2 linked regions of the Homo sapiens genome follow. The protein of the gene in region 2 interacts with the protein of the main gene of each other region in a pairwise test. Each region holds a gene or a part of one and is shown on either strand. Other genes may lie near its edges.

Region 1 (3,809 bases), on a different chromosome or scaffold from region 2:
TCTCTAGACGGGCAAAGGCAAGGGAACAGATTCTCCCCCAGAGCCTCCAGAAGGAACCAGCCCTGCTGACACCTTTACTTTAGGCCAATCAGGCTGATTCTGGATTTCTGTCCTCCAAAAATATAAGATAATAAGCTCATGTTGTTTTAAGCTTCTAAGTTTGTGGTAATTTATTATAGCAGCAACAAGAAACTAATACGTATTTTTGTATCTGGAAGTGAGGTATTGCTTGTAACAAATACATAAAAATGTGGAATTAGCCTTGGAATTGGTCAGTGGGTAGTAGATAACTTGGAGCACCATGATATTAAATGGCTATTTTGCCTTAAAGAGACTCTTGTAGAAATATGGATGTTATAGACTGTGACAGGCAAGGAAAAAGTGAGGAGCATGGTAGAGAAAACCTATACTGTCTGAGAATATCCAAATATTCATAAACATACTGGTGGTAGCAATACAGATGTCAAAAGCCCTGCTGGTGAGGGCTCGCAAGGAAATGAGGAACATGTTAGTGGAAGGTGGAGGAAAGGGGATCCTTGTTCATTCATAGCGGCAGAATTAGATGAATTGGAAGTGGAAAGCAAAACTTGTAAACAATGAACTTGGATATTTAGCTGAGGAAATTTCCAAGCAAACAGTGAAAATGCAGCCTGCTTTATTCTTGCAGGAGAAAACAGACAAATTAAGAGAACTGCTATGCAAAGAGGAGCAAGATTAGATAATTTGGGAAATTCTTAGCCTATCTATACTGAAAAAGACAAAAAGTTAGGGGTTTTGCTGAAAGAAAAGTGCTTTGGAGAGAAAGCCATGAGTGCAGCTATACAACCCTTTGTTAATGCCTCAGAAGTTTTGAAGGATCAGGGTATTTAGTCAAACAGAGGGCTCTTTGAAGAAATTAAGCATATGAGTCAAGGATCCCCTCAGGCGTCTCAGCAGAAGCCAGAAATAGCAATGAATTATTCAAGAAAGATCTGCAGAGGAGCCTCTTGTGTAATGGAATGAATCCCTATGATATAAATGGGAGAGCCACAAGGTTTTTGAGAATGATTTACCATCAGGAACACTGTCAGCTGGAATTGAGAGGGACAAAAGAACAAAAAGAGAAGGAAAGAAAGAAGGCTATTTGACTCCCCAAATTCTTCAGGCAAAAGCCAGGGTAATAAAACAACTCACCTGCATATACATGCCACCCTTAACAAAAAAGGAGGTAAGGCACAGTGGCTCATCATGCCTGTAACCCTGACACTGTGGGAGGCCAAGGCAGGCAGACTGCTTGAGCCCAGGAGTTGAAGAACAGCCTGGGCAACATGGCAAGACACCTTCTCTACTAAAAACACAAAAAATTGGCTGGGCGTGGTACCATGTGCTTGTAGTACCAGCTACTCGGGAGGCTGAGATGTAAGCCTGGGAGGTGGAGGTTGCAGTGAGCCGTGATGGCACCACTGGGCTCCAGCCTGATGAAAGAGCAAGACCTGGCCTCATAAATAAATAAAAGAACTTTAAAAAAGAAGGATATTTTAGAGGGTAGAAATACAGGTCAAATGGGTGAAGCCAAGGGCCACAGAGAATTATCCCCAGGCCTTGAAACCTAATGGCTGAATTTTGAAATAGCTTGGAACCAGTGATTCTTTTTCTTCTCCTTTCATTTTCTCCCTTTTTGAATGGAAATGTCTACAACTATTCTCCAATGCCTATCCTACTCATTGTATTTTGGGAGTAGGTACCTCGCTTCAGGTGCAAAAGTGGGGAGGAATTTTGCCCCAGGATGAATCATACCCAGAGTGTCACATAAACCAGCTTTAGATAATTAAATGATGAAATGGGACTTAGGGGCTGATGATATTTAGATGACATTTTGGATTTTGAGTTGATTTTGCAATGGGTTCAGAGTTTGTGGGACCTTGGGATAGGCTGAATGTATTTTACAAAAGACAGATGTGAATCTTTAGGGGTCAAAGGGAAGACTCTGGTAGACTGAAAAATGCCCCCAACCCTACCCAAAGATATCTACGTCCTAATCCCTGTAACCTAGAAATACATTACCTTATATTCAACAGGAAATTTACATTTCCTTTTGTATTAGAGAATTAATTTGTATTAAAGTATTAAAGGATTACTTTAAGAGAAGTATTTTGAGATGGGAAGATTATCCTGAATTACCCAGCAAGGCTTGATACAATCATAAGGATCCTTATAAGAAAGAAGCAAAGGTCAAAGAGAAGGCAATGTGACAAAAGATGAAGGAGAGAGAAAAGGCAACATGATGCATGGCTGTGATCCAAGGACTGAGGATGGCCTTTAAAAGCCGGAAAAGGTGACAGTTCACAAGGACAGAAAACCAAATACCGCATGTTCTCACTCATAGGTGGGAACTGAACCATGAGAACACCTGGACACAGGGCAGGGAACATCACACACCAGGGTCTGTCGTGGAGTGGGGGGAAGAGGGAGGGATAACATTAGGAGAAATACCTAATGTAAATGACGAGTTAATGGGTGCAGCAAACCAACATGGCACATGTATACATATGTAACAAACCTGCACGTTGTGCACATGTACCCTAGAACTTAAAGTATAATTAAAAAAAAAAAAAAGCCAGAAAAGTCAAGAAGGTGGATTCCCCCAAGAGCCTACAGAAGGAGTCAGCCCTGCTGACACCTTAACTTTAGCCCAGTTGGGTGGATTTTGGTTTTCTGACCTCTAGAACTGTAAAATAATAAATACATGTTGTTTTAAGCTACTAGATTTGTGGTAACTGGTTACCTAAGCAACAGGAAACTAACAAGAATAGATACTAATTATAAGTGAATACTTAGGTAATAGTATGATCTATAATCTATACTTCACAAAGTATTTTATGAACATATACTAAATATGAATGTACAAATCCTAATTGCCCCGTTAGAAGTTCTTAAGTTTGTTACACAAAGACAACTATAAAAATTATATATTAGTGCAGGTATGCATATATTGGCTTTCAAATTTGAAGGCAGAAAGGAGAAAAAAAATGACATTTAGTGCAAGAGATCAAGAGTCTATTTCTATGTGTCTCATAAAAAAAGATTGTTGTAAGTACACTTAAAATTGAATTTAAGCCACTTAATTCTGGTGGCAACTGTGTTTTTCATCTTTATTTGTCACACCATGGTGTTGAGCACACCATTCTACACGATGTTGGTGTTCTTTAAATGTTTGCTGATTAAATAACTGACAATATATTAAAAAGAGAATGAGAAAAAGTTACAGCCCTAGCCAGGTTTTATTGTAAATTAGATACAGCTTTATTTCAAATTAGTCTACAAGGAAATTGATGCTAAAATAAAACAGATAATTATTCAAGTAGAAGTTTTTAAAAGTCCTCATAAGGTAAAACCAAAAATATATGCATATATACATAGAAAGGTTCAAGATGCAGATGGGCACACACACAAAATCAGTGTGCTTCACTATAACAATAACAAAATACACTCATAAAAATCATACCTGTCCTTAAAGTTGATGATATGGTTTGGCTGTGTCCCCGCCCAAATCTCAACTTCAATTGTATCTCCCAGAATTCCCACATGTTGTGGGAGCAACTCAGGTGGAGGTAATGGAATCACAGGGGCCGGTCTTTCCTGTGCTATTCTCGTGATAGTGATTAAGTCTCACAAGATCTGATGGGTTTATCAGGGGTTTCTGATTTTGCTTCTTCATCATTTTCTCTTGCTGCTGCCATGTAAGAAGTGCCTTTCGCCCACCGCCATGATTCTGAGGCCTCCCCAGCCATGTGGAACTGTACGTCCAATTAAACCTCTTTTTCTTCCCA
Region 2 (4,378 bases):
TTTGACTGGGAGCTGGTTTTCTTGGACAGAGGTTGGCTGGCAGGGACTGTCTCTGAAACTTGGGGGACACTGGCTGACTCCCCAAGGGCAACTGGGCTCTCCTCGAGGGAGGCTTCCCTTTTCTCCTGTATGTCTCTGTTGGGCTGTGACACTGCGTAGTCTTCAGGCCGTGCGTGGAACTTGGGCCTTCTGCTACCTTTAACTTGGGACTCCGGCATTTGACTGGTCTCCCAGGGCTGTTCAGGAGGGTGACCAGGCCGACACTGGAGCGCCTGTATCTCCTTCCAGGAAGGATGGAGGTCACACAGGGCCTTCTGCGGGTCGCGTTGCAGCTGCTGCTGCCTGTCCTGCCCGCGCGCCGCCTGCTGCAGCAGCTGTTCGGCGATCAAGCCGGAGGCATCGCGCTCTTGACACGCGCGGCCCAGGTGGCCGCGCACTTCGCTATTCTCAGCCTCCACCTTCCGCACCCAGTCGGTCTTGGCCTGCAGCCGCCCATTCTCCTCCGCCAGCCAGGCGTTTTTGAGCAGCGCCGCCTGCAGCTGTGTCTCGGCCTCCTCGCCACGTCGCCGCGCCGGGGCCGCCTGCGTGCCCAGCTCCTGGCACTCGCGCCGCCGCTGGTCCAGCTCGCGCTCCAGCGCCAGCATCTGCCGTCGCACCTCCTCGCAGGTTGCGCTCTGGCCGCCCGCCTCGGGCCAAGCGCCACCGTTGCCCTGCTGAAGCATCAACTGCCTCTGCAGGCGCAGCACTTCCCGCTGGGACTCGCGCTGCAGGCGGTCTAAGTCTCTGACGTTGAGCCACTGGGTGCAGGGGCCGCCCCTTCCAGTATGCAGGTCGCTGCAGGGACCCGAGGCGACACGCGCCTGCAGGAGGTGGCACTCCTGCCGCAGCTCTTCGATCTGCTTGTCCTTGGCCAGCGGCGCGCTCGCCTGCTCCGACAGGTCCCGAGCGCGCTGGCGGGCAAAGACTTGGCACAGCTCCAGGCCGGCGCAACTCTCGCCGGGTATAGGCGCGCTCACGGCCCGGAGGTTGGTCTCCTGCAGCTCGCGGGCGCGGTCAGCTAGGCGCCGCGCGAGCCCGGTCAGCTCCGCGCGCTTTACCTTGAGCCGCTTCACCTTCTCGTCTGCCTGGTAGGGGCAGCCTGCACGCCGCAGCTGCTTGTTCTCCTCTTGCAGGGTATAACAGCGGCGCGCCAGCACCCACAACGCCTTGGCCAGCAGCCAGTTCAGCTTTATCAGCTCGTGGTGGCCCAGGCCCGGGGGTGAGGGAGTCAGGACTTCGCAGGGCTGGCTCTCAGAGCCTTCTCCTCCCCGCGGGTTGCTGAGTTTCCTGTGGGCTGACGGTGGTGGTGGCGGCGGGAGTGGCGATGGTGGCGGCGAGAGCCTCCGGGAGCCAGGGGTGGAGGTGTCTGGTGAGGAGGGCCGCTCCTCGGATTTGGAGGCCTTGGGGAGGCTCCGGGTGCTGTCAAGCGAGCGGGAACACGCAGGTGCGAAGCAATCAAGGGAGCTGGCGTGCGTGGAGAGCAGGCCGTCTGGGGAGCTGGAGCACGCAGAGGACACCAGGCCTAGCGAGCGGGAGCGCACACCGACTTCAGCACTCAGGCTGTCTAGAGATCCGAGTTGGCAGGCGGGTTTGGGGGCGTGGCAAGAGCCGCTGGAGGTCTGGGGCAGCGGTTCTTCCAAGGAATGCACAGCTTGGGGGTCCGGTGATCCCGACAAAGCCGGGTGCCCGCGGAAGTGCGCCAGGATGTACTTGAGGAAGAGCTGGCGCTCCACCTCCAGCGCCGCCTGCAGATAGCGGATGCGCGCCGCCTGCTCGCCGTCAGTCTGCCAGCGAAGCTGCGCCAACACTTCCTGCAGGCGACAGCGGCACTGCGCCGCGGAAACCTCGGACGCCCCCGGGCGGCTACAGTGGCCGCGGTTCACCAGCTCCTCGGCCAGCTGGCGCTGCAGCTCCCGGGCTTGGCGCACCACGCCATCGCGCTCCCGGTGCAGCAGCTGCTGCAGCTGCCGCTGCTCGGCCTCCTTCCAGCGCAGCAGCTGCCGGATCTCGGCCTCGCGTTCCCGCTGCATCTCCTCTTGCAGCTGCCGCAACTCCCGGCTGCGCTGTGCCTCCCACTTGGAGCGCAGACGGTCAGCCAGCTGCCGCCGCTCCCGCTCGGCCTCCTCACGCAGCTGGCGCTCCCGGGCAGCGAAGCGCCGCCGTTCCGCCCGCCAGCCTGCCCGCTCCGCCTCCAGCTCCGCCCGTAGCTTCTCCAGCTCCCGCCTCTGGTTCTCCAGCACTGCCGCCGCCGGGCTGGAGCAGCCCGGCTTCTTGGGCGACGCGCCCAAGGGGCTGGGCGAGTCCTTGGCCATTGCGGCCGCGGCCCGGCTGGTCTCCAGACTTCGCCTGGCAGGCCTCAGCTCGCCAACGGCCGCCGCCGACCGCCCGGCGCGCCCCTTCCGGCGCCCCCTGGGGGTCTCCGCGTGCCCCTTCCGCCTCTTGGCATGTTCCCCCGCCTCCTGCCGCGGATGTCTGGCCCAGGCGCCTCTCCACCTGGCAAGGCCAGGGCTGGACTCCCACACCCCTGCTCAAACTGGCCCATGTCCCTTCCAGGATGCACGGGGGCTTTTCCGGTCCCTACACTTTTCCTGCTTCTAGCACCAAGTCCCTTGTGACCCTCCCCAGGCACCCTCCCAGGCACTGTGCAGTCCCAAGCAGGCCGCGGTGCCCCGAGGGAAGTCTGGGCTGCTGCTCCTGTACTTGGAGAAAGGGGCAGGGTGTGTGTGTTAAGGCCACCCATGGGGTGTGGGCATACCTGGTCGTGGGTTCAGGTGGTGTATTTGGGTCAGGTGGCTGGAAAATGCAGCAGGATAGGCCTCAACTTGGCTAGACCTGGACTCCCCAGGACCCTTCAGCCCCCTAACAGCCCTGATCACCCAACTGGTCATCCACCTTTTGAGGAAAGGATGTGCCTGATACACATTTGTGTTACTGCGCAGAGTCGGCTCAGAGGAGGTGTAAGCGAAAAGACCCTCCCCAGCAAGGTGGCATAGGGACCCAGGGCCAGATAGGCATGGGGGCACTGCCCAAACTGGCCATCTGGCCTGTCTACCTCCCACATCCAGGTACCACCTGGTGACAAACACTGGAGCCCCAGTGTCTGGGCTACTCATTGGCATCTTAGGTAGAGGCCTCAGGATGGGCCAGGAGTGAGGGTGAGGCTTCAGCAGAAATGTTGGAGGCATCCTGAGCTGCAGAAGAAACACACACACACACACACACACAGCTGCAGAAGAAACATACACACACACACATACTGAGCTGAAGGAATACACACATACACTGAGCTGCAGAAGAAACATACATACACACACTGAACTGAAGAAATACACACACACACACACACACACACACACACACACACACACACACACACTGCCTCTCTGACTGGTGGCCACCTGTGTGGCTTGGGAGCTAAGAAGCCCTGCTTCAGTCTGGCTCCTCTTTGCCCTTCCTGTCTGCTCCTGGTGCCAAGTGGCTTTTTGGAGACATGGATGGACACCTGATACCTGGCAGTCTGCATCGAGACATTGATTTTGTTTTTTGAGATGGGGCCTCACTCTGTCGCCAGGCTGGAGTGCAGTGGCGCAATCTTGGCTCATTGCAACCTCTACCTTCCACGTTCAAGAGATTCTCCTGCCTCAGCCTCCCAAGTAGCTGGGATTACAGGCTTGAGCCACCATGCCCAGCTAATTTTTTGTACTTTTTAGTAGAGACAGGGTTTCAGTATGTTGGCCAGGATGGTCTTGAACTTCTGACCTCAAGTGATCCACCCGCCTCGGCCTCTTAAAGTGCTGCGATTACAGGCATGAGCCACTGTGCCCGACAAGACCTTGATATTGAAGTCACATCAGAGGCCCCTTTGCTTCTTGGTCTGTCGTGTCTCCCTGTCCCCAGGAAGCACCTGGGACCTCTCACAACTGCTGTGTTCACTCAGCTTATGGCCCTCCTTTACAACACTCAAGTTTTTCAAATCAGTTTCCCCGGAACCCACAGAACATGCCTTTAGGCAGTGTCAAGTAACAAGAACATCGGGAATTATGGCTCCAGATGTTCTTTTTTTTTTTTTTTTTTTTTGAGATGGAGTCTCGCTCTGTCGCCCAGGCTGGAATGCAGTGGCGCAATCTCTGCTCACTGCAAGCTCCGCCTCCTGAGTTCACGCCATTCTCCTGCCTCAGCCTCTCAAGTAGCTGGGACTACAGGTGCCCGCCACCACGCCTGGCTAATTTTTTTTGTATTTTCAGTAGAGATGGGGTTTCACCATGTTAACCAGGATGGTCTTGATCTCCTGACCCTGTTGATCTGCCCGCCTCGGCCTCACAAAGTGCTGGGATTACAG

What was found.
Region 1: the proteins of RIMBP3C (region 2) and FARS2 interact in a two-hybrid assay, tested with the Homo sapiens proteins (one large-scale study listed by BioGRID).

Annotation. Positions count from the first base shown.
Region 1 is NC_000006.12:5,547,966-5,551,774, reverse strand, and holds part of FARS2 (phenylalanine--tRNA ligase, mitochondrial), read right to left. Parts: intron 1-3,809. UniProt on the Homo sapiens protein: Is responsible for the charging of tRNA(Phe) with phenylalanine in mitochondrial translation.
Region 2 is NC_000022.11:21,548,626-21,553,003, forward strand, and holds the start of RIMBP3C (RIMS-binding protein 3C), read right to left. Parts: upstream 2,837-4,378; 5' UTR 2,352-2,836; coding exon 1-2,351. Other genes in the region: UBE2L3 (ubiquitin-conjugating enzyme E2 L3), read left to right, coding at 825-1,025.